Linked DNA regions of Homo sapiens: all the other regions are linked to region 7. The links come from fine-mapping of genetic effects on gene expression. A gene starts in region 7. Each other region holds a variant in brackets. All regions are shown on one strand. Distances are between the middles of the regions.

What was found.
Region 1: its variant is fine-mapped to the expression of CHN1 in whole blood (TOPMed, PIP above 0.99).
Region 2: its variant is fine-mapped to the expression of CHN1 in whole blood (TOPMed, PIP above 0.99).
Region 3: its variant is fine-mapped to the expression of CHN1 in whole blood (TOPMed, PIP 0.97).
Region 4: its variant is fine-mapped to the expression of CHN1 in tibial artery (GTEx, PIP above 0.99). The same link has a PIP of 0.9 or more in aorta, coronary artery, esophagus mucosa, ileum, stomach and subcutaneous fat.
Region 5: its variant is fine-mapped to the expression of CHN1 in whole blood (INTERVAL, PIP 0.99).
Region 6: its variant is fine-mapped to the expression of CHN1 in whole blood (TOPMed, PIP above 0.99).

The regions. Positions count from the first base shown.
Region 1 is chr2:174,857,399-174,861,467 of GRCh38, forward strand. The region is part of intron 6 of CHN1 (chimerin 1); the gene reads right to left. Among named protein-coding and RNA genes, the nearest start is that of CHRNA1, 95 kb to the left of the region's middle. The variant G/A (reference allele first, on the strand shown) is at 1,976.
Region 2 is chr2:174,821,300-174,825,368 of GRCh38, forward strand. It overlaps CHN1 (chimerin 1), which reads right to left. Exons shown (of 13, transcript NM_001822.7): 8 at 3,135-3,219. Among named protein-coding and RNA genes, the nearest start is that of CHRNA1, 59 kb to the left of the region's middle. The variant C/T (reference allele first, on the strand shown) is at 1,678.
Region 3 is chr2:174,842,588-174,846,656 of GRCh38, forward strand. All of the region lies in intron 7 of CHN1 (chimerin 1), which reads right to left. Among named protein-coding and RNA genes, the nearest start is that of CHRNA1, 80 kb to the left of the region's middle. The variant G/C (reference allele first, on the strand shown) is at 2,105.
Region 4 is chr2:175,026,997-175,031,065 of GRCh38, forward strand. It overlaps the pseudogene RNU6-1290P. Among named protein-coding and RNA genes, the nearest start is that of CHN1, 24 kb to the left of the region's middle. The variant T/C (reference allele first, on the strand shown) is at 1,609.
Region 5 is chr2:174,951,542-174,955,610 of GRCh38, forward strand. It overlaps CHN1 (chimerin 1), which reads right to left. Exons shown (of 13, transcript NM_001822.7): 2 at 623-661. Among named protein-coding and RNA genes, the nearest start is that of CHN1, 52 kb to the right of the region's middle. The variant C/A (reference allele first, on the strand shown) is at 2,166.
Region 6 is chr2:174,786,002-174,790,070 of GRCh38, forward strand. It overlaps LOC124907908 (a long non-coding RNA gene), which reads right to left and starts at 1,949. Exons shown (of 2, transcript XR_007087311.1): 1 at 1,873-1,949. RefSeq lists enhancers at 1,312-2,127, 2,540-2,834. The variant C/T (reference allele first, on the strand shown) is at 2,188.
Region 7 is chr2:175,003,134-175,007,202 of GRCh38, forward strand. It overlaps CHN1 (chimerin 1), which reads right to left and starts at 2,248. Exons shown (of 13, transcript NM_001822.7): 1 at 1,761-2,248. The coding sequence starts at 1,779. RefSeq lists an enhancer at 1,418-1,964 and a silencer at 1,949-2,008.

The sequences.
Region 1 (4,069 bases), 150 kb before region 7:
TCATAAGATACAGTCTTATTTTTTCACTTATAAATTCTTGGAGGGTGGCAGATTGTGGTCCTGATGTATTGGTAACAACCTATACTATAAACGGAACATGTCCTTATTCTGAATTATGCAACAATATATAAATATAAACGAAATTATATAAGAATAAAATGTTCTAATCTAACACTATCTAATGTTTGGTTACCAGGAATGATGGTTGTATAACAACATTCTTCCTAGGCTCTTCCTAATCAAAAGCTGAAACTGGGCTTCATGAGAAGGTCCTCTTGATCTTCCCCCCAACCCCCATGAATCTGAGGGGATACTTGGGGAAATGTGCCATTACATTTTTATTTTTGTCAATTTTTACCCAATTTTTGACACCTATTACCTGCAAGACTTAAAGAAACACTATTATTGTTCTGTGGCAATAGAGAAGGTGAAATCAGAGAAGGTCTAACACTTTGTCAACAATAAGGAACTTTAAATCTAGTGCAAAATTCTTGAATCATAAACATTTTCACTTTTTCAAAAAGCTTTTGGATATAATATACATATAAAAAATACAACTAAAAGGCAGACTCAGATTGATATTATTAGGAGTGTTTTCAGATTTTAAACTGCTATATGAGGTTATTTCAAGTTATTGCATCTCAGCAAACACTCTATACTCACTAATTTAATGGAGGCAATCTAGTATATCAAAACAAAAGCTAAAGGTTGTATTTTTAGTTTTCTCATTCCTTTAGTGACTTCTGTTGATTAGGCTGGGATGAAGCCTAAGTGATTTGGTTATTTTAAAAAGGGCCTGTTACAGACTTCTTTAAACTTCAGTTAGAAAAGCTAATTTCCTTTCTATGGCAAAAATAAACCACAGTTTGATTAGAATATATCAATTGTAATTTATTTAAAATATTCATTTTAAGCCTCAATAGAGATATATATTGATTCATGGTATAAAGCAGATTTGTGATCTTCAAACATACTTTTGAAAATTTGCTTTTATTTTGAAAATGGCAACAGTGGCCTGAAGACAAAAGATTTAACGTTTATAAACAATTACCCTGGGAAGAAGTACAAGCATGGGCATAAATCACAGATGTGTTAATTGTCCACTGTCCTGCCATACATTTAATTTTCTTTGTAATGACTCTGCTATACTTATTGCACGTTTTATAAGATAATGATGTTTGAAAAGTAAAAGTAGCTTGCTTTTGGGCATTTTCTAAAACAAACTTTTTATATCATGTCCATAGCATTTCATTTATGAAATTCCTGTTAGTTCAAAGGATCCTAATAAAACTAATAGAAAACTTAACAACCCCTAACTTATATGCTCTTCATATAAGAGATAGTCATTAGGTTCTTATTTTTATACAGACTGTGTCCCATATGGAACTCAGTATCTTAAGAGTGATTTGAGGCATCTGTACAAGGTCCACATGTGGTCAGTATGTTAGAAAGGAAGACACAGAAAGTCAGACTGCAACAAGTGGCACTTGTGAGGAAGAAGAAAAGATTAAAGGATGATTAATATCTTTCAGTGACATTTTAATGGACTGAGAAAAATCTACCATGCTGATTTCCTCCTCTACACACACACACACACACACACACACACACACACAAAACCAAACAAACAAAAACAAAGGTTAAAGTAAGATAGCAATTGAAGATTTTAGGTTGATAAGCTCAAATGTTATTTGAGGCTATCTGGCCAGCTGAGACTGGTACATTACTACCTTGTCCACTAAAATGCCCCTAATAGCAACCAACAGTGACTAGGGATGTGCATAGATCCAGGAGTGGCTCTCCAAGCTCCTCAGAATGTACCTAAGCTTATTTAATACAAAAATATTTTCAGTCCATTACTACTGAGTAAAACTAACGCTCTAGGAAGATATGTCATATTCACCTTTAGGTTTAGCATATCCTTGACAACTAGCAGGGAAAACATAGTTTCAGGAGAACAGGCTTGGGTGCCCAA[G/A]GGAGGACTCAGAAACCTCTTCCAGGCCTAGGCCTGATTCTATAACCAGGTGGCATATCAAGAAGTAATCTGTGAGGTAACTGGTTTAATAATCCGGTACTAATTCTACTTCACAATAATTTTAATTACTGTAGTCTTCTGCCAACCCGGCTAAAAAGAAATCCAGGCACACTTTTACACTGTCCCCAAATCAGTAGCACTTAGAGCTTTACATTCCACAAAGTGATATGTCATATATACTATTTCATTGTAACTTCCTATTCTTGTTTTTCAAAAGGCAAATTCACTGATGTTAAGGTGTTTGTTCAGGGCAGATAGTAAGCAAAGCAGCCAAGATGGAAACCAGGCCTTCTGACTTCCCTATCCTCTCTCTACTCTACTGTGCTTGCCTGAGACCTAGGGATATAACAGGCTGACTCTTAACCCTAAGTAAGGCTCAGCTGTCACAAAGACCCAGAATCATCAGCAAACAGAAACACTCACAACTGAAAATGACCACTCTTAATTCAGTTCTAAGCCTGACAATTGGTTTACAACATACAGAGAAGTAAGGTCAGCCTTGGTGATTAACCTCGGCATTAAAAAAAAACTTTTCCATTATTTTGATGGTGGGGGATAGGAGGTAAAGTGATATGTTGATCTCATTTAGATACATGCAGTTTTTTGTCAGATAATATATCAGGGCTTCAAACAGAGTTACTGAGTAGCATGCCTTTTTGTTTTTGTTAATTTTGCACTGGCTTTTCCTGATCTTTAAATAAAAACAAATCAATAAAACTACCTCCAAACCAATGAAATGAGAGCGTAGTCTCTTGAGCAACTAATTAAACTGTTTTTAGAAATAGCTAATTAAGCTTTCCATTAAAATCCACCAAATAGACATACATAATTTACAAGGTGGAAAGCCATTTCAATCTCATGGGTAAAACAATTAAACAAGTCTTAAATTTATAACAGAGACTGCAGATTGGTAATTCAGTGAGTAATTATATAATTAGGATGTATTTTATCTTTAAAAGAATATAATGTAAAAAAATAAATTTTTGGGTGCTAGACATATGGCCAAAGTGTAAAAACTTCATAAAACCCACAAATTCATTTAATGAAACTACTGAAATGCTCAAAGTATATATGTACAATACTAAGTGCTCATAAATAGTTTTCACTCAGCATACATTTTATTGAGTATCTATTATATGCTAGGCACTAATGAAACTGTAGCTTCATACCAGAGACTAGGGTGGTATACTATTTTACAAGGACCAAATATTAAATACATATTTAATAAATAAATTGTAATTGAGATAAGTGCTGCATGAATAATGTATTTTTGCACCGTATTTTTGTCCCATAATCACATTTTCTAACAAAAGTTGAATTTGTCCGTGAAATCTATGACCATGCCCTCCTTCCAAACTGCTCCCTCCCCTCATGGGCTTTCTGACACTCTCACAGATGACTTCTACACCTCTCTCCATCCCAGATTTCTCGCTCTTTCCAATATGGATGTGCTTTTAAAGCCCTCTGAAGTCCAAACCACAGGGTAGTTTGTGACCATCTCATACGGTCCTTTTATCAGAAATAATACAGACAGGGAGCTGCAGTTTATAAACTCTCCTCCTCAATCTGCCTAATCCCTCCTTCCATAAAGCATTTAAAAAATTAAATTGTTTTAAATTTAAAAATTTAAAATTTTTAAAATTCAGTGTTAAGTGGTTAAAAGCTTGGCTCTTGAGTAAAAACTAGCTGTAAAAGAATCTTAGCTCCATTTACTAGTTATGGGATCTTAGATAAGTCTCAGTTTATTTGTAAAACTGGAATGAAGATAGTACCTATACTTCATGGGGACTGGAAGGATGAGATAATATAGGTAGAATGTATGGAATATACATAAGGCATATATTTTTAGTACCCAGCATGCAGAGAGCTCTCAAAACTCTCAAAGACTATGTGGTGATGCTGATATTGATACTGTTATCATCATTAGCATCAGTCTTATAGCTTAACACAAGGCTTGGGACAAAGTAGATGCTAAATAAATGTTAAAAGAATGAGCAAAATTCATGGCACATTCGTAAGCCTCTCTGAATTCTT
Region 2 (4,069 bases), 180 kb before region 7:
CTTCCTCTGTCTTCAAAGCCAGCAGCATAGCATCTTCTCTTCCCTCTGACCTCTGCTTCTGTCCTTATATCATCTTTCTCTATCAACCTCTCGCCTCCCTTTTATAAGGGCCATTATGATTGTGATTATACTAGGCCTCCCTTGACAATCTAGGGTACTTTCCCTGCTGTGGTTTGAAAGTGTCCCCTCAAAAATTCAGGTGTTGCTAATGTGAGAGTATTAAGAGAAGGGACCTTTCAGAGATGATTAGCTTATGAGGGCGCCTCCCCTGTGAATGGGATTAGGCGCTCTTATAAAGGGGCTTGACAGAGGGAGTTGGCCCCTTTTATACTCTTCTGCCAAATCATGAGGACACTGCATTGTAGGCACCTCCCCTCTGGAGGACATAGCTTTCCAGGCGCCATCTTGGAAGCAGAGTTGGACCCTTACCAGACACTGAACCTGCTGCCAGCTTGATCTTGGACTTCCTGGCCTCCAGAACTGTGAGAAATAAATTTCTGTTATTTACAAATTACCCAGTCTGTGGTATTTTGTCATAGCAACCCAAAACTCCCCATCTCAATATCCTTAATTTAAATGACATCTGCAACATTCTTCGTGCCATGAAAGGAACAAGGAATGTTGTTCTGGGAATTAGAAGCGGACATCTCTGGGGAGCTATTTTTCAGCTTATCACAGCTAGTGTGCACTCTCTCTTTAAATTCTCAATTCTTTGCGTTTGGATTTAGATAGTCAAAGGCCAGATGAGCCTCAAAGCCACTTCAGACCTAAGAATCTCACTGTCAATCCAAATATAATTAGTTGTCATAGAAAACAGAATGAATTCAAATTCCAACCCTCCGTGTTTTCAAAATGAGTTGACTTGTGCTTGTATTACACATTAATATGGTTCAAATCACACTGAATATAATGCTTTTAAGGACAAGATATAACATAAAATGAAAAATCTCCTCAAGGCTTTTCTTTCAATTCCTGACCTTTACTCACAATAAGAGGTAGAGGCTATTAATGTGGGTGGCTGTGGAGATGGGGATGAATTCTTTCTCCTTTCCCCCATATTATTGACATGATAAATGTTCCAAAACATTTCTTTCCAACATGATTGGGGTTGTAGCGTATTCCCAAAGATTATTCATAGGTGCTGTACCTATTCTCTATTAATAGTTAAGAATTCTTATGTAGATGGGCTTCACTTTTTCAAAATGGAAACAATATACACCCTTACTCATGAAAGAAAAGCTTTTAAGTTTGTGACAGTCATAAAACATTTAAAAAACTATTGCAGAGTATCAGCTGGACAAGACTGTCTCATAAAGGCAAACTGGGCTCATTGAGACCATTGTTCTCGAGCAGGCAATTTGTGCTTTGGAAAGAGTATTCCATCTGCCTTTGTGAAACTGCAATGCACACTGCCTCAATACCTCCACTTTATCAACACTTTCCATTCTACTGTTTCCCTCCAGTGCAAAGGCACAACCATGGCCTTCTTCATCCCAACTCTGGATAACCACCAGCCACAGCAAGGCTTTCCTCATTCACTCTGAGCTTCGACTCTGAGCTGAGGCGCTCCCTGACGAACACCTTTGCACAGCTCCAAGTCCACACGTGTAGGATTCTTATCCCACTTCCTGTGGCAGGAAGGTCCTTGAATGGTGATATATGCCTGGAACCTTATTA[C/T]ATTTTAGTGATACTAAGGGAATAATAACTGAAAGAAGAGCGACTTGGAACATTTCCATGCAATACATACTATATCTTGCTATTCAAAGGAAATGCAATTTAGAAATAAGAATCAGACCCCAGAAATTTCTGCACATAATGGACAACAAAAATATTCCATTTAAAAATCATGCCACAAAAGAAATGATGTTTATAGCGATAAATCTGACAGTTACTATAGTTACCATTTTGAAATACTTTACTTAGTATATTTTTTAGTGTAAAGCTTCATGCTAAAAGACATGTAAGAAGATATTTTTTAGTTTTACAAATTAAATGGCAGAAGGAAACTTTTATGACCAAATAATAGACATTTAAAATTTACATGATTATTTTTAAGCCTATGTCAGAATTTAGAGTAGTTTGGGCTGGGTGCGGTGGCTCACGCCTGTAATCCCAGCACTTTGGGAGGCTGAGGCGGGTGGATCACGAGGTCAGGAGATCGAGACCATCCTGGCTAACATGGTGAAACCCCGTCTCTACTAAAAATACAAAAAATTAGCTGGGTGTGGTGGCGGGCACCTGTAGTCCCAGCTACTCGGGAGGCTGAGGCAGGAGAATGGCCTGAACCTGGGAGGCGGAGCTTGCAGTGAGCCGAGATCGCGCTACTGCACTCCAGCCTGGGAGACAGAGTGAGACTCTGTCTCAGAAAAAAAAAAAAAGAATTTAAAGTAGTTTGGATAAATGGCCAGTATTCAGTATAGTTGCTCTATACAAATGGATTTCACGTGATATACATAAGTACTTTATTTCACAAAGTATCTCAAATACATCCTTGTGTTGGCTATTTCTGTATGTGTAAATCTTTTGGTTTCTAAATTTGTATCTAAATATTCATGGTCATATTTTACAAAAAGTATTTGATGTATTTGATTTCAAAACATCACACAGAAAATATTAGTGACTAAGTGGTTTTTCAGAATTTGGTAACCATCTTTGAAGATGAATTCACAGATTTTTAAAGCTTCAATTTGATTTCACAAAAATTTAGTAAGGACAATCCAGCTTAACAAGTTATCTTTAAAATTCAGTTTCCAAGGCAACAATCATAGGTCCCTGTACATTGCTTTAAAAAAATCATTTTTATAAATTTAGTTACTGCAACATCAAAGGCAAGTATTAAATATAACTGCCTTACTTTTATCTCCTTTTATCAGACTTTTTGAACAAGCTGACTTCTCTCTTTTCAGTGGACTAATGCCAGATCCCTAGTGTGCTGTCCATCAAGTGCCAGAAGGTTAAGAGCAGATAAAATATCAAATTTCCAAAGTGGCTGCCTGAGAATCTGGCCTACTGCATGTGCATAAGACCAAACCAGGATCCAGCCTACTGGATATGCATAACAACAAGTCTCCTTCTACCTCACCTCTTATAACTTCACAACTGACTCAATCCAGAGACAAGACAAGAGCTCTTACCTGCACATTTCACTCCCTGAGCAATGAGACCCCACATAAAGTTGGCACAGTATTCACACCAGTGTGGCCCTCTGAATGTATGCACCTGAAAAAAAAAAAGAGGGGCAAAGTCAGGAAAGGGGAAACACACGGATGAGAAGACTGCTTCATATCAAAGCACTAATATACAAGCCACATATTCTATATATATATATATATGAGAGAAAGAGAAATGGGGTCTCACTGTTGCCCAGGCTGGAGTGCAGTGGTGTATCACAGCTCACTGAGGCCTCCCTCAAGTGATCCTCCCACCTCAGCCTCCTGAGTAGCTGGGACTACAGGCACACACGACCACACCCAGATAATTTTTGTATTTTTTGTAGAGACAGGGTTTTACCATGTTGCTCAGGCTAGTCTTGAACTTCTGAGCTCAAGCATCTGCCTGCCTTGGCCTCCCAAAGTGCTGGGATTACAGGTGTGAGCCACTGCACCCAGCCCATGGTTAGTAATGAAGCGCCAACATGGCTGCATTTAAAAGAACCTTGGTTGAGTGAAACTGACAAGCAGTTAACATTTTTTTCAGAGCTTGATTTCTTCTTTGTTTTAGGAATGATAAATCAGACCAATATTCTGTAACTTACTTTCGAAAACTATATAATGGAGTTTTCCAATGTCCCCTCAGGTGCAGGCACCCTAATCTATACAAATACTGGCATTTCTATGTACTATGCTATTTCTACAGTACTATGACATGAAAAGGCATGAGTGCCCATATAGAGTATGTCTTGGGTCCTGTTAGGAATTTTGCAGATAATTTACCTTCTGTGACTATGAGTAGGATCACAGACATTAAAGGAGATACTTATTGATGGGTCACATCAGAATCATCAAAAAGGCCCAATTTCTGTTTAAAACATTTGATATTTATTATGTTAGCAAGGAGAATAAATGTATTT
Region 3 (4,069 bases), 160 kb before region 7:
TAAATGTGAACCAAATGAAGACCAAAGGGGGCTTGGATTTGCCCACGTCCTCGGGAGGAAAGGAAAGACTACCCTCAGCAAGAGTGTCGGCCACTGCCGCCCTTCAGTTCACCAGACAGCACAGTGTCCAGTCTGTTGGCTAGGATTGCTGGGTTCAGTATGATCTCTTTTTCCTAGTAGGTCTTGAATCAGTAATTTTATTAACTATTATAAGGTTCATGTTACAGTGTTATTTTAATTGCAATATCAATTCACATTTCAGGATTCACTGTTTGCCTGTTATCTTGGCAACACTAAATCTATTAATACAATATCTTATATCTTTCATTTACATGCAGACTGCAAGTACCTGAAATGAAAATCAACAACTAATTCAAGACTACCTTAAAAAATTAAACTCATATTTTTAGTATCTACTCCCTATAATTCTTAATGTTGTTTTCTTTTAATTACTTAATTTGCCTAAGTAGCCTAGCTTCTGTCGTTATTATAATATTGTATCTGCTCTTGATTTTATTTTATAGAGCTATCTGAATTAAGCAACAAACCAGATGAAACATTTAACAGTTTAATTTGAAAAGAGTAAAATAAATATAGAGGATTTCACTGCATTCTGTAGTGCATGAAAAATGTAGCTTTTATTATTTATTTATTTATTTATTTATTTTTGAGACGGAGTTTTGCTGTTGTTGCCCAGGCTGGAGTTCAGTGATGTGATCTCGGCTCACTGCAACCTCTGCCTCCTGGGTTCAAGCGATTGTCCTGCCTCAGCCTCCAGAGGAGCTGGGACTACAGTCACGTGCCACCACACCCGGCTAATTTTGTATTTTTAGTAGAGACAGGGTTTCCCCATATTGGCTAAGATGTTCTCAATCTCCTGACCTTTCGATCTGCCCACCTCGGCCTCCCAAAGTGCTGGGATTACAGGCATGAGCCACTGTGCCTGGCCAAATGTAGCTATTCTTATGCAACATCTAACTCTGCCTGACAACTAGGCACAGTCCCCACGATCATGCTAAGGTTTTCAATCACATCATAATCTCTGCAACTGGACAGGAATAAGAGGATTCAGATGAACCCTTAAGTATAAATAAATGTCAGTATAGATTCAGAAAAAAAAAAAAACCCACTTAGGGGTATTTGTAGTAACAAAAATAGTGGCTACCATGTATCTACATGTACTGGGAACTCAATTTTTCCGATGTAGAGAGAGATTAAGCAATTGACCCAAGGTGGTGCATATAATAAGCAAGCTCCTGAGGGCAAAGGCTGGATCTTATTTATCATTTTACCCAGAAAGCCTCAGAATGCATGGCACAATCATTGCTGGAAGGGTGCCTGAGTTTTATTTTTAATGTTAGAGTTTGTTTTGTTCTCTCTCTTTCTCTGTGTGTGTGTGTGTGTGTTGTATGTTGTATTAGGATGAGGTAGCTCTTAAAATAAGAGGTTGATCCAGGGGACAATTACAATTATTTTCTAATTGATTTAGATAACTTATAGTGTAATAGTTTTTAGAGGATTTGGTGCATTTATCTGTAAAATAACCTCCCTAAGGGATATAACTATCCTTCTTGTGATAGATGCTTTCTCAAATCCTTATAAGTAACAATAGAAAAAAAAAAAAAGAGACCATGTTACATAACATAGCAAAAGGGAAGCCTTCCTGTTTTATTCTACTAAAAAAACCCCAAACCCCAAAAACAAACGCCTGTCTGTAGGCTGAAGTTAGGTCCAGTTGGTTTATTTGGCTTTCACCTCAGTGAGTGCTTTCACCAAAGGTAGAAGGCATTCTTGGCTTCACTCCCTGAAATAAGGTTTGACAGCTGTTCGATTCCACAGAGCAGTATTACATAACAAGGCAGTTCAAGAAGCAAAAAAGAAAACCACCTTGAAATGAGGCTTTGGTGAGTGGGCCCGTGGTTATACAGAATACACTTTTACCACCATAATGACAAGGATACATGAATGATTATCGTCATGGAAATGCTACGGTTTTTCCCCACACAAATTTCTGAACTGTACATACATAGATGTGTATATCACAATCAGTGACCTTCTAAGCGAGCGTCTGTGTGGGAGAGAACTGCACCTGCCACAGAGTCTG[G/C]GATGTTCTTGGAAGTCAAGTATGACTTTCCTCCTTTCTTATTTTTTATAGTGCCACCCCACAGAAACATTTTTAAATAACAGAGAGTAACTTCAATGGAAAGAGTCAATTCCGAGATTTCTGACCTTATTAGCAACTCTAAATAATATGTAATGCAACTCATTGTCTAAAATGAACTCTTTCTTGAGCATAAATACTCTAAGAACAAGTCCAAGCTGGTTTTCATTATTTTTCAGCTCCAGAGAAGGAAGAAGCTTTCCATTTTTTAAGGCTTAAAAAAAACACCCAAGTATCTTTAAAGCAGTTTAGATACCAAGGTAAGAGTTACAGTTGATGGCAGAGTCAGAACTTTCCAGCTGTGTAGAATTTATTCATTAAAGCCATGTGTTAAAATTGAGAAACAACTGGAAGATACAAACACAAAAAGAGTTTGTTTATGCAAATTCTTGAATAGACCTCCTAGTTGCTCTTAATCAATATTGATAAAAAGCATGTATAATGAACTTGACCTAGCACTCAAATGGCATTCTTAGTAGGTTTTTGCTGTTTTTGCTGAACAAATCAGAGTACATCTTTGGAGATATATTTAAGATCTCAGCTATTTCTAAACAGTGTACATACAATTTCCTCTTTATTAGTAACCCAAAGACTTCTTTTTTGACATAACTTCATATTGGCAAAAGGATTTATTTGGGGTCATTTTCCTGATAAAAATCCTGTTAGATCAGGTTGTATATCATGCAAAAAGAAACTGAGGCCTAGAAGCCTGAATGTATTGCTTAGGTTCCTAAATGAAAGATGTAGTGAATGCTAGATACACATATGATACCTCTTTTCTATCCGGTATTTAATCTACTAAGTTGCCTCTATTTCATTTTAAATCAAGATATTGGTTGAAAGGTAAGGTCCTTAATATGTTTAAAGAGGAAGAAGAAAACGTTATTTAGTTTATTTTAAAATATTAGCAATTTTTACATAGCCCACATATTTAAGAAACATAATTTTATTAGGTAATTTCTCCTTCATCCCAAAATGATCTGAAGATCACAAAAACCTATTCCTCACTATGGAAAATGCAGAGCATATGGGTGGGGGGGGGGGTGTTGGTATTTAGTGTTTGAGTAAAATAAATACTGGTGTTAAAAATCAGAATAAATTGCAAATGTGGAATGAAATTATCTATTTCAGAGCCTGGTGCATTATAGGTGCTGAATAAATGTTGAATAAATAAATAAATGAAAGATCATGATTTCCAGCTTTATCACATTTTGAAACCAAATTATTCCCTTTCTAAAATAAAACCTAATGATACTTTGTCTAAACTAAGAACATTCATGTCTCAAGAACCGCATCACAAAGTTGTCTAACTATTGGGAAGTTACTATAGAAATGCCAGTGCATCTACCTATTAAATGTAACTGGGTCTACTTATGCACCACCTCACGTTGTTTAATCTCTGAATTAGATTGCAAAGGACAGAAATTCAAGGCCTTATATCATGCTATAAATACAGACTAGATCTACATACAGCTTGAATCAACACACATATCACCTTGAAAGAAAATTCAAGTACAGTTGATAAACCACATTAACACAATAATTAAAAACTACACATACGCATACATGGTGAAAGCAAATACTCAAAAAGTGAGGAGAAGCTGCTAGTGTCAGCAGCATCAACAGTCCCATGGTAGCCATCCTCCTTTCATCATGGTCAATTCATTAACAGGGGAGAAAAGACAGAAACTATGAGAAATGCAAACCATCTGCTCAATCCAGATGCAACAGCACATGCCTCTTATATCCAAAGCTTTTTACCAGAAACACAGATCTAATCCTCTCATAAAATCTCCAACAGAGGTATTCAGACACATTTGTATCACAAATAAAAACAATGCCAAAATCATCATTAACTGAGACCTTTTAAATATCAGTCAAGACTTTTACCAGTGAGTACACATTGAT
Region 4 (4,069 bases), 24 kb after region 7:
CTCACCACAACCTCTGCCTCCCGGGTTCAAGCGATTCTCCTGCCTCAGCCTCCAGAGTAGCTGGGATTATAGGCATGTGCCACCACGCCAGGCTAATTTTGTACTTTTAGTGGAGACGGGGTTTCTCCATGTTGGTCAGGCTGGTCTTGAACTCCAGACCTTAGGTGATCTGCCTGTCTCGGCCTCCCAAAGTGCTGGGATTACAGACATGAGCCACCGTGCCTGGCCCATGCTAATAATTTTTGAATGATAGAGTTGAGATGGAAAATGTGTTGATATGCTATCAATGAATGATATGCTAAAACCTCAGTTACTCAGTTACTACATGAAATGCCTAACTTCCCTGAGAAGCAGTTTTTTTCTTCACCATTTAACCAGGCAAATATAAAGTCTACATTCAGGCTCAAATACCTGGACATTAGACAGTTTAACAGAAGTTCATGGATTAAGGACTCCAAGTCTTCCCACTCCATATCTTGCTTTGAAAAAAGAAAATATGAAAAAATAAAAAAAATTTTAAAAGACTCTGAGTTAGGAAGTTGACATGAGATTAGCTGATGTCAAGTTCATTTTGAGCTGGTAAAATGGCAAGGCTATCATAAAACTTTCAAAGATGAGACTCCATTGCTAGAAGTAGTGTGTCTTAATTATGGAAGATTATAATTTTTGAGTTCTCTCCTCAGCACCCATCAAAATAGAGTATGTACTCAGCACTTTGATGGGCTGGAAAGCCCTGGAGGAGGATGAGAAGAGAGACAACCATGTAATCTGAAGAACAGTTGAGAGCCTTTAAAAGGCTTGTTCTGAAATAACACAAGATGCAAAGCAGATGAAATAACAGTCTTCGGATACCAGAAGTACCGTCCTGTAGAAGAGGGATGGGACTTCACCTGACTTGCTCCTGAAGCCCTGGGAGGAAAGGCCTGGTGCAGACTCCAGCCCAGTGGGAGACATGCTCTTTCCCAGCGGCAGCTGCCTGGAGGGCCACAGTCCACTGGCCCCAAGAGGAGCCAGGTAAATGTCATTTCAGGGACACATGAACAAGGAATTCTAAATGGGAGATAGGTGGATCATTCAGGAATGCTCTGTTTCATTTCCTATTCTAAAAACACATGACTCTTTTGAGATTTTTGTTTAGGTTTAAAGGAGGATAACCAAACACTAGACCGATGAATTGCAGTTTTTAAAAAGTAGAAGCAGCTGCCTGTTGGCTTTTGCCCTAAAGTCCCGTGGGAGTGGAAAGAGGCATGACTGTTTCCCAGGACAGATTGTTCCCAACTGGTCTCACTTTCAGGATTGTGCCCACGTGGTCAAAGTTGAGTCTACTTTCCGTATTGCTGATGCCTGTGGCCATAGCCATGGAAGGACGTGGAAGAAGCCGTGGTCCTGCCCCTGTGTAAGATGAAGACTTGTGAAACCACTGGGTCATCGTTTTTCATTTTGGTCACTTGCTGTCAGCCTTGGAGGCACAGGAAACAGAGTAGATGGTGCAAATCCGCCTGCAAGCGCATTTTCTTTCTAAAGAAAGTGTTGCCAGACTATTTGCTCACAGAACAACCACTGGCTAGATGAGCCCACACTAAGTAAACACAAAGGAATTAAATCAGG[T/C]GGATCCGAATTCCTCTGTTTATTTACTCCACAGTGAAAATGGCTTACTTTTTCTTTAAAAAAAGAACTTTGTTCTCAAAAGCTGCCCCACCTCTAATGCTACTTTTTTAAAAAGAAAAAATATACATATAAGAAGATACATTAAAAGGCTATTGTTCAAAAAATCTATTTCTTGTACGTTGTAGATTTAAATAGTGGTGAAAAACAGCCCATGAAATCTTTGATATACATGTGTGTTTGTAGGGAAAAAAAAGTAAATATCAGGCTGTGCTCAGTGGCTTATGCCCATAATCCCAACATTTTGAGAGGCCGAGGTGCAGAGATCACCTGAGGTCAGGAGTTCAAGACCAGCCTGGCCAACATGGTGAAACCCCGTCTCTAAAAACACAAAAATTAGCCGGGTGTGGTGGCAGGCACCTATAATCTCAGCTACTCGGGAGGCTGAGGCAGGAGAATCGCTTGAACCTGGGAGAAGGAGGTTGCAGTGAGCTGAGATCATGCCATTGCACTCCAGCCTGGGTGGCAGAGCGAGACTCCATCTCAAAAAAAAAAGAGTAAATATCTTGTAATATAGAAAATCTTAATTAAATACACCTTGTTTAACTAAATAGAGGCAGCAAGAGGGGGGAGTTGCCCTGGATTATTTTTGTTTGTTTGTTTTGGGGTTTGTTTTTTCTGATTATAAGAGCAATATATGATCATGGTAGGAAAATCTGGAAAATTATGAAGCTTTCTATGTTCACAGAATGAATATAAAACAAAAAAGTACATGTTTTAGGTGGCTAGTTTTACATTTATTAAATGTATTACTTAAAATAAAATGCTTTAAATGCCCTAACAATAAGTGCTGGCTGGTTAATCTCCCTCTGAGGATCTCAGAGCAATTTACCAATACCCCTGCTCTGACTGTAAAAAGGGTATGATGAGTCTTCCGGACTTTAAAAGCATATTGATCCTTTCAAGCTCTTCAAGTACTCAGCACTGATTAATTCATTGGAAAGTAGTCTCAAAAGGGCATTGTTCTGATGCAGTCTATGCTTATAACTTTGTGGACTCCTTTGCTGGCAACCAAGACCCACTCAGAAAATTCTGGGTCAGAAAATAGAAGGCTAGCATTTAAAGATCCTCAGTTAAGTATATGGCCAATTCATTTTTACTAAAATTGTGTTCTCTTGGGCAGCACATATACTAAAAAATTGGAACAATACAAAGAAGATTAGCATGGCCCCTATGGAAGGATGACACACAAATTCATGACACATTGCATATTTTAAAAAGAAAAATTAATAAATAAAATTATTTTGCTAATGGGGTTTCCTTCTTTGCATGTCTATGAATTGGAGACAGTTTAGCGCTTCCTAGCAGTCCTGAGCCCTGGGATTCCCTAAATGTGGTCCCTGAACAAGAAGCATTAATATTACCTGGGAATAGCAATCTGTGTTTCAATAAGCCCTCTAGGTGATCCGGAAGCACATGAAAGTTTGAGAATCACTGTCTTAGCTGTTTTCCCCCTGAATGCAGAAATTAGCTCCAATTGACTCATGCTGTCAGACTTCATTTACGTGTGTATACCTGGATCTGGGGGATGATTATATGGGGACACATGTCCATAAAAATTCTCTGAGCTTTACACTTAAGATACATACATTTTACTGAATTTAATTAAACCTAATGAAAAAAACAACACTGCTAAATTATATTTCTAAGAAAGTTGGTCGGGTTCAGCTTGTCTCTTGAATAAAGGTGGTGAGATCCAAGGGCCTTGCCCATAGCATCACTGCCATGATGAGAGATTCCATGATACTGACAGCCAAGGACATCTGTGTGTAGCAACCCCAAAGACATATATTGACATTGTTTAGCAGTAAGTCAATCTCCAAGCAATAACCTCAACTTGTTTGACATCATCCTGGGTACATCTCTGAGTTGTGGGGCACAGCCACAGGAAACCCTAACATGAAACCAAAAGGGGCAGGTAGAAAAAAGTGCTGGACTTTTAAACTAGAGAAGGAAAGCATGAGAAACCTAGGAAGCAGTGATTAAATGCAGCCAATCAGGTGGTACGTACAAGTGTTGGGCAAGAGAGAAGCTGTGGTCAAAGGCCGTAAGAGACACAGCAAGGACAGCAGAGCTGCCCAGGCAGCCTCTCTGCTGACATAGTCCATAGAAGACGGTTGTGGGAAAGAGGGAGGAAGAGTGACCCACAGGCCAAGAAGAGCTTCACAGGGCCACAGCTTTAGCAGCTGTCTGTCTGCTGTCTTGGCCCTAAGGATGAGGTGGAGACCCCTAAGAGCCCTGGTGTCAATTGTGCATCCAGTCTCAGAATCACAGAAATTCTGTTCCTCAGTGCTGAAGTGTTTTGTGTGTCCCTAAAGGAAAAGCACTCCCGGAGCTGCCAGGTTCCCATCCCGACCCATGAAGAACTGTCTTCTTGATTAATCACCCCCTCTTCCACTGTCAT
Region 5 (4,069 bases), 52 kb before region 7:
TATTAGCCCTATTTGAACTTTTAAAATCTGAAATATCCTTTACTTGGTGAAATAATATTCTCTAGAAAACAAGGAAAGGAAAATAAAGAACTAAAACCCTAGATGTTTAAAAAGAAATATCCTAACGCAGTTTAAAGAGCAGCATGGAATCAAGTATCTCCCTTATGTTTTGGGAAAGTAATTATTTAAAAGTTAGATCACCTTTTTTTGCCTCTTTTCACTTATTCTTTCTATCAACATAGCCTCCTGAATTATTGTCATTTAAATATTCCTTTCTTCACATAAAGAATCAGGACCTGAAAATAATTAGACTGTTTGAATTCTCAGTGTCTCCTTGTATTAGCTTCATTAGCCACTCTGAACAAGTGGTCTCAAGTTTCACTACATGGAATTCATATAAGCTCAGAGGGATGAAATGCATTCCAGACGGAAAACCATATACTGTACAGACTTTGTGTAAACACTTACTTAACCACAATTATTTCTATGCTACTCCCAAACCTTGTTTAAATTAATTTTTCAACAATGGGTACAAAATGGAATGAGTATTTCTATCTAATAATCCCATATTTTTATATTACTTATAAAGCACTATAACCCACACAATTATTTGTAGACTTACAGTAAGATTTCCAAACAGGAGGTCTATATTCATCTGTATCTGAAAGAAAAAACATCAAATTAACATTACTGAATATTTAAATTTTAAATGAGACATTTTAATCATTAACTCATTTAATATATATCTGTTGAGATCTATTTGTTCTAGGTATTGTGCTAGGCACTAAGGGGCATTCAAGGGTTTTTTTTTAGTCTTGGTCCTTACTTAGTTGGAGTAATTTTACAAAGATGTTTAAATAAAGTTACTGTATTTATTCAATTGCTAATTACATAAAAACATCAAGGTTAACTTTTACTGCTGGTACTCATTTCTTACTATCACTGAAGTAATAGTCAATAAAGGCTTTGTTTCTTTGGGCTTAATGATTATTTCACTGAAAGATCCCTAAAATTATTGAATTTTTCTTTTTCAGTCAAATTCACCAGATTAATCATTTTAATCACCGCAAAAGTTAAGTATTTCTATTATTTTCCCCCGTTACATTTGGGGGATTCCAATGTACATGGTTTTACTAACATGAAGAAAGAAGGAACAGCAAGGTTCAGATCTCAGTCCTCACACATCCTGGACAATCAAAACCAGGAAATGAGAAACACTTCAATGGAAGAGAGTGTATCTAGGGAACCACAACGAACATGAGGTGAACATCTGCTCTTCAAGTCCATTTCCCCTCATGTTGCCTGAGTGCAGATGTAGGAGACAGTATAAATAGGAAGTGGAAAGAGATGGAAATACAAACACATGACGGACGTGGAGTTATCAGAGAAAGAAGAAGGGGCCAGTGTAGCTTCTGGCTACGCTGTGTGGCTTCTCATCAGTAAAGCATAGCTGGGGACTAATTTTTGCCAGTCAAAAGCTCTGCCTGCAAGACTATATAGCCACGACTGCAGAAACATTTTTTGGTATAGAAAGGTATGGCCAGCCACATCACCTGGCTCTGCTGGAAACCAACATGAACCCATTAGGCAATCTGATCCAAAAATTTTGATCTCCAAGGAAGCAAAAAAAAAAAAAAAATCCCTGGAAAGTTTATTGAGAAGACTAAACAAGTAGCTCAGGTAAAATGGTCATAGACATAAGACATTCAGCCTCCAATCTGCAACCTTTAAACTGCAATATCACACTTCATTTATAATGTGTTATCATAAACCACACAAATACTTTGAGAAAAAGGGTTACAGCAAGACTGCTAATAGTGGGCATAAGAACATAACATGGAAATTTTAAATCATGTGGAAATTGCTTGGCACCCCATAGAGTGTTCAAATATGTCTGCTTCAAGAGAAAGAAATAATGGGCATCCAAATTGGTAAGTCAAACTGTTGTTGTTTGCTGATGACATGATCGCACACCTAGAAAACCCTAAATACTCATCCAAAAAGCTCCTAGAACTGGTAAATGAATTCAGCAAAGTTTCCAAAGTTAATGTACACAAATCAGTAGCTCTGCTATACACCAACTGTGACCAAGCTGAGAATCAAGTCAAGAACTCAATCTCTTATACAAAAGCTGCAAAAAACAAACAAAAAACAAAAACAAAAAC[C/A]AAAAAAACTTAGGAATACACATAACCAAGGAGGTGAAAGACCTCTGCAAGGAAAACTGCAAAACACTACTGAAAGAAATCATAGATGAAACAAACAAATGGAAACACATCCCATGCTCACGGATGCATAGCATCAATATTGTGAAAATGACCATACTACCAAAAGTAATCTGCAAATTCAATGCAACTCCCATCAAAATACCACCATTATTCTTCACAGAACTAGAAAACACAATCCTAAAATTCATATGGAACCAAAAGAGAGCCTGCACAGCCATAGCAAGACTATGCAAAAAGAACAAATCTGAAGGCATTACATTACCCAGTTTCAAACTATACTATAAGGCCATAGTTACCAAAACAGCATAGTACTGGTATCAAAATAAGGATATGGACCAGTGAAACAGAATAGAGAATCCAGAAATAAAGCCAAATACTTACAGCCAACTGACCTTCAACAAAGCAAACAAAAACATTAAGTGGGGAAAGGATACCCTAATTCAACAAATGGTGCTGGGAAAATTGGCAAGCCACATGTAGAAGAACAAAAGTGGATCCTCGTTTCTCACCCTATACAAAAATCAACTCAAGATGGATCAAAGACTTAAATTTAAGACCTGAAATCATAAAAATTCTAGAAGATAACATTGGAAAACCCCTTCTAGATACTGGCTTAGGCAAAGACTTCATGACCAAGAACCCAAAAGCAAACGGAACAAAAGCAAAGATAAATAGATGGAACTTAATTAAATGAAAAAGTTTCTTCATAGCAAAAGAAATAATCAGCAAAGCAAACAGACAACCCACAGAATAGGAGAAATCTTCACAATCTATACATCCGACAAAGGACTAATATCCAGAATCTACAAGGAACTCAAACAAATCAGCAAGAACAAAACAAGCAATCCCATCAAAAAGTGGGCTAAGGACATGAATAAACAATTTTTAAAAGATGATATACAAATAGTCAACAAACATGAAAAAATGTTCAACATCACTAATTATCAGGGAAATGCAAATCAAAACCCCAATATGTTAACACCTCACTCCTACAAGAGTGGCCATAATTAAAAAATCAAAAAATAATAAATGGTGTGGATGTGGTGAAAGGGAATACTTTTACACTGTTGGTGGGAATGTAAACTAGTACAATCACTATGGAAAACCGTGTGGAGATTCCTTAAAGAACTAAAAGTAGATCTACCATTTGATCCAGTAATTCCACTCCTGGGTATCTACCCAGAAGAAAAGAAGTCATTATATGAAAAAGACACTTGCACACGCATGTTTATAGCAGCACAATTCACAAATGCAAAGATATGGAACCAGCCCAAATGCCCATCAATCAACAAGTGGATAAAGAAAATGCGGTATATACATCTATATATCTATATATATAGATCTATAGATCTATAGATCTAATATAGATCTATATATCTCTATATATCTATGTCTATATATCTCTATATATCTATATCTATATATATATATATAATTGATATATATATATATCTATATAGATATAGATATATAGAGATAAATAGATAGACATATATATATACACACCATGGAATACAACTCAGCCATAAAACAGAATGAAATAATGGCATTTGCAGCAGTTCAGGTGAACTTACCCAGATGGAATTGGAGACCATTATTTTAAGTGAAGTAACTCAGGAATGGAAAACCAAACGTCATATGTTCTCACTTACAGGAGGGAGTTAAGCTATGAGGACACAAAGGCATAAGAATGATACAATGGACTTTGGGGAGTGAGGGGAAAGGATGGACGGGGAGAGGAATAAAAGACTACCCACTGGGTACAGTGTACAATGCTCGGGTGATAGGTGCACCAAATTCTCAGAAATCACCACTAAAGAACTTATTCATGTAACCAAACACCA
Region 6 (4,069 bases), 220 kb before region 7:
TCACCCCACCTTGTTGCCAGTTTTTGTCCACCAATCAATCAATTATCAATTCAGTGATGCCCCCAGATATGTTATATCTAACAGTCAATAGGAGAATCTTGAACAAAGAAGACATACAGAAACCTTCAGAGAAAAATAGAAAGTGAATAAGAGAATTAAAAAATAGATGCCATTGTTCTCATTGCCAAACTCTATTGGAAAACAATCCTCAGCTGCTCCAGGAAACGCATTAATCAGAAGTCTCCCGGGCTTGCTGTGGAAAATAGTTTGGTAGTTCCTTACAAAGTGAATCATAGAATTACCTTACAATCCAGCGATTCTACTTCGGTTATATATCCAAGAGAATTGAAAGCAGGGACTCAAACAGACCCTTGTGCACCATAGCCTTATTCACCATAGCCAGAGGTGGAAAAACCCAAGTGCCCATCCACAGATGAATGGATAAACAAAATGCAGCACATCTATATAATGGAATATGATTCAGCCTTAAAAAGAATGAAGCATTGAGACTGCTACAACATGGATGCACCTTGAACCCGTGCCAAGGGAAATAAGCCAGTCGCCAAGGGACAATATTATAGAATTATTCCATTTCTATCAGGTACCTAGAATAAGCAAATTCACAGAGACTGAAAATAGAACAGTAGTTAGCGGGGGCTAGGAAAAGAAGGGCATAGTTATTGTGTGTGTGTCGTTGGTTTGCTTCTTTGAGACAGAATCTCACTCTATTACCCAGACTGCAGTGCAGTGGCACAATCTCTGCTCACTGCGGTCTTGACCTCCTGGGCTAGGGTGATTCTCCCACTTCAGCCTCCCGAATAGCTGGGACTACAGGCATGCACCACCATACCTGGCTAATCTTTGTAATTTTTGTAAAGACTGGGTTTTGCCAAGCTTCCCAGGCTGGTCTTGAACTCCTGAGCTCAAGCGGTGATCTGCCTGGCTCAGCCTCCCAAAGTGCTGGGTCTGCAGGTAGCTATCATGCCCCTTGAGAGTTTTTTTTTTTTTTTTTGAGACAGAGTCTTGCTCTGTCACTTATCCTGGAGGGCAGTGGCACGATCTCAGCTCACTGCGACCTCCGCCCCCCGGGTTCAAGCAATTCTCCTGCCTCAGCCTGAGTAGCTGGGATTACAGGCGTGTGTGGCCACCCCCAGCTAATTTTTGTATTTTTAGTAGAGACGGGTTTTACCATGTTGGCCATGGCTGGTCTTGAACTCCTGACTTCAAGTAATCCACCCGCCTCATCCTCCCAAACTGCTGGGATTAGGGGCATGAGCCACCACGCCCAGCTGAGAGTTATTGTTTCACAGGTACAGTTTCTATTTGTCATGATGATAAAGTTCTGTAGATGGATGGCACAACACTGTAAATATAATTAATACCACTGAATTGTACATTTAAAAATGGCTACAATGGTAATTTTATGTATATTTTACCATATTCCAAAAAGAAGTCCACAGAAGCTCAAAAAATTGTTCCTGTGTGTTGAGATAGAGGAGAGAGGCCTGGGCTGTGGAATCATTTACTGAATACCAAGAAAGAAAACAAGGTAAACTTTCCTTGTTGAAGGTTGAAGAAGAAAAAAATGCTTTCTTTGGCCTATCCCTGGAGCTTCTGCTACTGTTGGGCCAGCCTCTGGCAGCAGCACAGAGATAGATGTTAAACAGCGCGGGTAGACCTGGGTGCTTTCAGAAAAGTGGCCCCTGCCCCTTCTTCCTATCCTCATCCCTCAACAAAGGCTGAACCCTGGTTACCCTCCAAAAGCCTGTTTTCTGGGAAATTGCCTTTTAGAATTTTTCTTTAAATGTATGAATCCACCCTGAATGCTATTTGAAAAAGAAAAGGAATTTAAAGATGTTGAAGTATGCTTACATATACACAATGGAAAAATTTGCTTCTCAAACAGCCTGAGTAGAAAACCTCGCATCCCCATGGCAACCAGATTCCACTGTGACCACACATCAAATGGGTGGGTGACCTGGCAATGTAGGCCTGGGCTCTTCAGCCCCTCCCTGCGAACATATGGGGCCCAGATGTACCACCCACTGCAGTAGGGTGCTTGAAGCTCCAGGATGGCTGGCTGAGGGCTCTGTTCTAGTCACTAAGGGATATTCCTGGAGACCCATCTAACCTGGGACAGGGAATCAGTTCTTCCTGAAAATCATAGAGGGGCAGGAGACTCTCCCT[C/T]AAGCCATTGCCCCGGGGAAATGCAAGACCCCTGTGGCTACTCAGGGGCTTGGATTACTAGGATGAGTGGTTGGGATTTAAAACAATTGTGTGCTGCTGACCAGAAAACCAGGCCCTTGGTAACACAAGAACTGCAAGTCCTGATCAGTTAAAAACCTAAAGAATAATCAGATCCTTAATGCTTCATTTCCTTGAACAGACATCTGACCCTTTTATAGAGTTTGTGTCATCTTCCCCTTTGATCATCTTCCCCTTTGATCATTCAGAACAAGTACTTCTTTCCAAACTACGGTCTCAGTCCCATTTTCAAATAGTATTTTGGAATGGCTAGCCTATGATAACCCCACCTCCCTTCCTGTTGAGCTTCCTAATGATACCGAAGGGAAGAGCGTGGTCCCTTTAAGTGATACGGAAGCGGGGGCGGGGGGGGGGGGGGAGGGAAGGGCGTGGCCCCTGGCTAGGGCTCCACCCCTACGAGCCTAGATGAGGACAGGCATTTTTGTTTTCCTGCTCAAATGCTGCATTTCCCAAGACCACCCTGGCCTGCCACGCCCCCATCCTGTGCCTATAAAAATCCTGAGGCCCTAGCAGGCAGACACACAGATGGCAGGACGTGGAGAGGAGCACAATGGCGGAGGAACTAGGCCACTGACCGGCAGAAGCAGAATGATGCTGTGGCAGTCGGATGAGAGCCCAGGCCGCTGAGCTGTCGACTCCAGGGGGGAAGCCTTCCCACTCCATCACCTTCTGACTTCCCCCATCTGCTGAGAGCTGCCTTTACTCAAAATCTTGCACTCATTCTCCAAGCCCAGGTGTGATCCGATTCTTCAGTTACAGCAAAGCAAGCACCCAGGATACAGAAAGCCCCCTGTTGTTGCAACAAGGCAGAGGGTCTAATTGAGCTGGTTAATACAAGCTGCCTATAGACGACAAAACTAAAAGAGCGCAGGGTAGCACACGCCCACTGGGGCTTCAGGAGCTGTAAACATCCACCCCTCGACACTGCCGTGGGGTTGGAGCCCGGTAGCCTTCGCGTCTGTATGCTCCCTAGAGGCCTGAGTAATGGGGCACTGAAGAAGCAAGCCGGTCCCCGTGTCGCACGCCCTGCAAGGGCGACAAGTGAACTTTTCCCATTTCACTAAGGTCTTTCTTTTACGAAATTGATGTATAATAGTTGTACATGTATATGGGGGTACGTATAATATCTTGATACCTGTATACAATTTGTAATTATCAAGTCAGCTGATTGGGAAATCTATCACTTCAAACATTTTTGAGTTGGGAGAGTCACAATTCTTCTAGCTATTTTGACATAGACAATAAATGATTAACTATAACTTCCCTGCTATACTATCGAATACTACAACTTACTCCTTCTATCTAACAGTATTTTTGTCCCCATTAACCAACGTCTCGTCATCCTCCATCCCTTCCCAGCCTCTGGTAACCACCATTCTCTCTCTATTTCTATGAGATTCACGGTTTTTTTTAGCTCCCACACATGAGTAACATGTTATTTTACTTAACATAATGTCCTCCAGTTTCATCCATGTTGCTGCAAATGACAGGAGTTTTTTATTTTTATTTTTATTTTTTTTTTTTTGAGACAGAGTCTCGCTCTGTCGCCCAGGCTGGAGTGCAGTGACGCGATCTCGGCTCACTGCAAGCTCCGCCTCCCGGGTTCACGCCATTCTCCTGCCTCAGCCTCCCGAGTGGCTGGGACTACAGGCGCCCACCACCACGCCCGGCTAATTTTTTGTATTTTTAGTAGAGACCGGGTTTCACTGTGTTAGCCAGGATGCCCTCGATCTCCTGACATCTTGATCCGCCCGCCTCCGCCTCCCAAAGTGCTGGGATTACAGGCGTGAGCCACCACGCCTGG
Region 7 (4,069 bases):
GTGTACAACCACTTTTAAAAACAGCTGCTGCTCTATCACTACTTAACAAATAGCCTCTGCACTCAAGAGTGCTTTGTTTTATAACACAGAAACGTTCACACTGTAACAAACTGGATTTTGGGAAGTGAATTCTATTTTCCCATAAGTAGACTTTAAAATTTTAAAGATACATTATTCATTTTGAAGGCTGGGAGTGATTTCTTATACTTTCTTCTATAGGCCACATTCCATGCTTTTCCCTTCCTCATCTTCACCACAGTGGTTAAAGATTTAGAATTTAGAAATCCTTTTAAAAGAGCATTTTTCACCCCAATTTATCTTTTTTATTCGTCAGGAATGCGAGTATTTGAAAAGTTGACTTGTAAACCTTACTTCTGAAACCACACCTTGAAAATGCCAAATATCTCTTTAGGAAAGAAAATGTTTGTACCAAAAAGGTCCACATTTAAGGAAAATGCTGCTATTAAATAATGCTTAGATACAAGGTACTGAGAAACAGCGAGAATTTTATTATTTTTCAGAAAAAGAAGACACTTTTTTAAAGTACCTATGGAGGATCATCACCAAGTAAGAAATGGCACTTCTAGTAATGCACTTGGGCACAGTAAACACAGTCCCAGACTGAAGCCTGGTGAAGTGAATTCTAGGCTCAGTTTTGCCACAAAAGAGCCATGTGACTTTGGGAAACAACCTCTCTGGGTCTAAGTTTAATTTATAAAATAAGATAGTTAAATAAAAGTAACACTTTGATTCTAGCAGCTTAATTCACTGGGAAGTATTTACCTCAAAAAGCATTTGAGGTATGTAACACCTCTAACGTGTTTGATCAAATGACATAATTAAAACTGAACTGGAAACTTGATATTGTGAATAACTTACTTAGGCTGTTCTCGTAGCTATCAATTACATATCATTGTACTTTGCTTCTTCAAAAAAGCTGAATACTTTGAACGTCTAATGTTCACATATTGAGTTTTCTTAAAGTCAGGTACGTATGTACCATAGTCGTTTTGTAAAAGGAAAGAATGTATCTTTTCAGTCCTTTTTCCCAACCCATTGTCATTGCAGACTGAGAAAAAAACAGCTTGAAGTCTTAACCACCAAAAGCAACAGTGCTGCAGTAATTACACCACAAAAATAACATTTCATTCTTAATGAATACTCAGTCTCCTGAGATTACAGTTATCTTCTGGTAACCAACTTTATTCTGTCTGCTCTCATTCGTTAGTGCAAACATTTTCAATTTTAACCCATATTCAGTTCACAAATCATACTTATTTCCAACGGAATATACTGAGTCCAAAAAAAAAATTCCCCAATAGTCCAACAGGAAGCAACACATGCATTTGGCAATTCCAAGGAGGCTGGGGACTCACAGATACCTCGTTCAAAATAAATAAACTTTCCAAGGATTTATTTACCGACGGGAAAGGCAGGTTTGAAAACAACCAGTTAACTTCACTCCCAAGTTGGCATCTTAGAGAATCTTTGTGCGTTTGCAAAACACCCAGGACCTCTGAGCCTCCCAGCCGAGAATTGGCCAGGGGAGCACACGCCCATCGGCCCTGCCGGGAGAGGAAACAATGGGAGAGGCGCGAGGGAGCAAGCCGGCGCCCCGGGCGCCCCAACTCTGCGGCCCCGGCCCGCCCCGACCCCACGCGCCGCGCCCCCTCCCCGGGCGCCCAGGCCCCCCAGGCCCCCGCCCCCGAGCCCCGGGACGCGGCCCACCTGCGGCGGCGCGGGGAGACGGCTGCACTTACCAAACAGGGTCAGGGCCATTGTAAAGGCGCTCGCCGCCGCCCGCGAGTCCAGGCGCTCCTCCCAGGCGGGCTAGGGATCACCTCATCAGCCCGCCGCACCCACACCTCGGAGAGAGTGGGGTGCCCGATGGGGCGTGCTGGGGGCGCCGGCGCCCGGGGAGGCTGCAGGCCGGGACGCGGGGGACCGCTGCAAGAAAAAGTTATTCACGCGTTATTGTCGGGCGCACCGGGCCCAGGGAGCCCCGCTAGCTCTCCGCGAGCCGGCACTTGTCGCTGCCATCAGGCGCGGAGCGTGCGCGCGGGAGGAGGTACCTGCGAGGCAGGAGGCTTGGCCGCGGCGCAGTGGCTGGCGGAGAGGCGGCGCCGCACTGGCGGCGGCGGCGGCGGCGACGGGGAGAGCAGCAGCAGCCTCGCACAGCCCCCGGCGGGGCGCGCTCACTCCGCATCCCGCGGCCTCGCAGACGCCATCTTGCGATAGCGTCTCCCACGAGCTCGGCCGCGCCGCTGCCTCCCGCCTCTCCCTCGGGCTTCCCGGTCGAGTGCGTTCCCATGGCAACGGGCGCGCGCGGGGGTAAGAGGGTGCGCCCTCATTCCCGCGGCTGCGAGGAGCCACCAGCGCCCCCCTGGAGGCGGCCGCCCGGAGCGGGATGGAGCGGGGCCGGTGTGCGTTTTAGCTGAAAGCCCAGGTTTTTTCTTGAATGGAATTTGAGGAGGCGCAGAGAGGAGAAAAACGCTGTTACTCGAAAGAGGAAGAGTCACAGGAGGATGCTGAGTGAACGCAGCGCCCAGGCAGGGTCATCTGGGGACCTGGTGCGTGTGAGAACATATTTCTTCTCCTGGCGCCCTCCAGGCTCACTGTGGCTGGAGCCGGTGACCTGAAGCTGCAGGGCTCTGGTAGGAACAGAGGCACTGAAAGCTGCATTCCTCTCCGTTTGGACTTAGGAGCTGCTAGTAGTTCTGATGAAATTGACACACATTAGGAAAAGGAGTCGCTTAAAAAGCATCTGAGATTACCTAAGATAATTTGTTAAAAGACCAATGCTTACACCTGATTTTCTTCCCTTTACATTATACCTCTTTGATATTGTCTCAAGGAAAAAAAAATCAGCATGTGTCACTGACTGGCACTTATTTGCCACAAAAGATTGTTCCCCTGAGCTTCTTGTATTTATCTGATAATCACTGGCAACGTCCTCCTTTCTGTGATGTTGTCTCCTCACCTCTGTCTCTGCCATGAGGAGCCATACAACGCCTTGAGATTGTCAGCCAAAAGATGTTCTTGAAAAGCTGGGTTATATGTTTTTCGTCGTTGTCGTTTAATGTATTCAAAAAGTCATTCTTCTCTAGTTGCTATATGTGTTCCCTGTTTAAGAAATTCCTTCTTTTTTCTTGTTTCTCTGCTTAGGGATTTGATACTATTTTGGTATCTGATCATGTAGATCTTCTCTTTGGTTCTCCTTTCTTTCTACAGGCGTCTTTCCTCTTAGTTCCTCAGGTTCCCTAGTGTCTTCTCTCCCATTTTCAAATAATTCTTTAAGAATATTATAGAAATATCTTGTATTTAATGTATCTTAGAGATCGAATCCTGATAAAGTGGGAGATTACTACAGTACTTCCAATGGAACCACAGTTAATTCACCATCATTATTTCAAAGCAGACTTAAGCATCAGAAGAAAAGCAGGTTGGAAGGAGGAGCCAAGCCTTTTGTTTCAAGTCAGTTAACTCAGGAAGAAAGAAATATTAAAATGATTCAACATGAATGGGCAAGTGTTTAAGATGCTATATGTTTGGAATTTTGTGATGTAAAATGGCTCTCTTTAGCCACTAATCAAAATACATCTTTAAAATCCCCAGAATTTAAAATCTTTCATGAAAATGGACTCTTGATTTTGAACAACCTTTCTGCTCATAAAAAATTACAAACACACAGCTCATGAAAATAAATGAGAAACTCAAGAAAGCTTTGTGGGATAGATTTTATAACCATATAAAGATTGCTGCTAATCTGCTCTGCAGCCAAATAAATCAGAAACCGAAGACTCCATTTACTGTTTCAACTAGTGGTCTTCAACATTTTTGGACCAAATTTCCTTTTGAGGCTCTAATGAAAATACTGTCCCTCCTCTTAGAAAAGTGCTTGCATACATACACACATTCACCGGAAATTTTTCACATAATTTCAAGGGGATTATGGGCTATTCAGGGACCTTAGGTGAGCCCCTGGAAGTGTTTTTTGTAATCTCAGAAAGTTTTTGCCTTTATAATTTAAAGGAAAATATTTTCCTTCAGAATAGAACCATTGAATTTT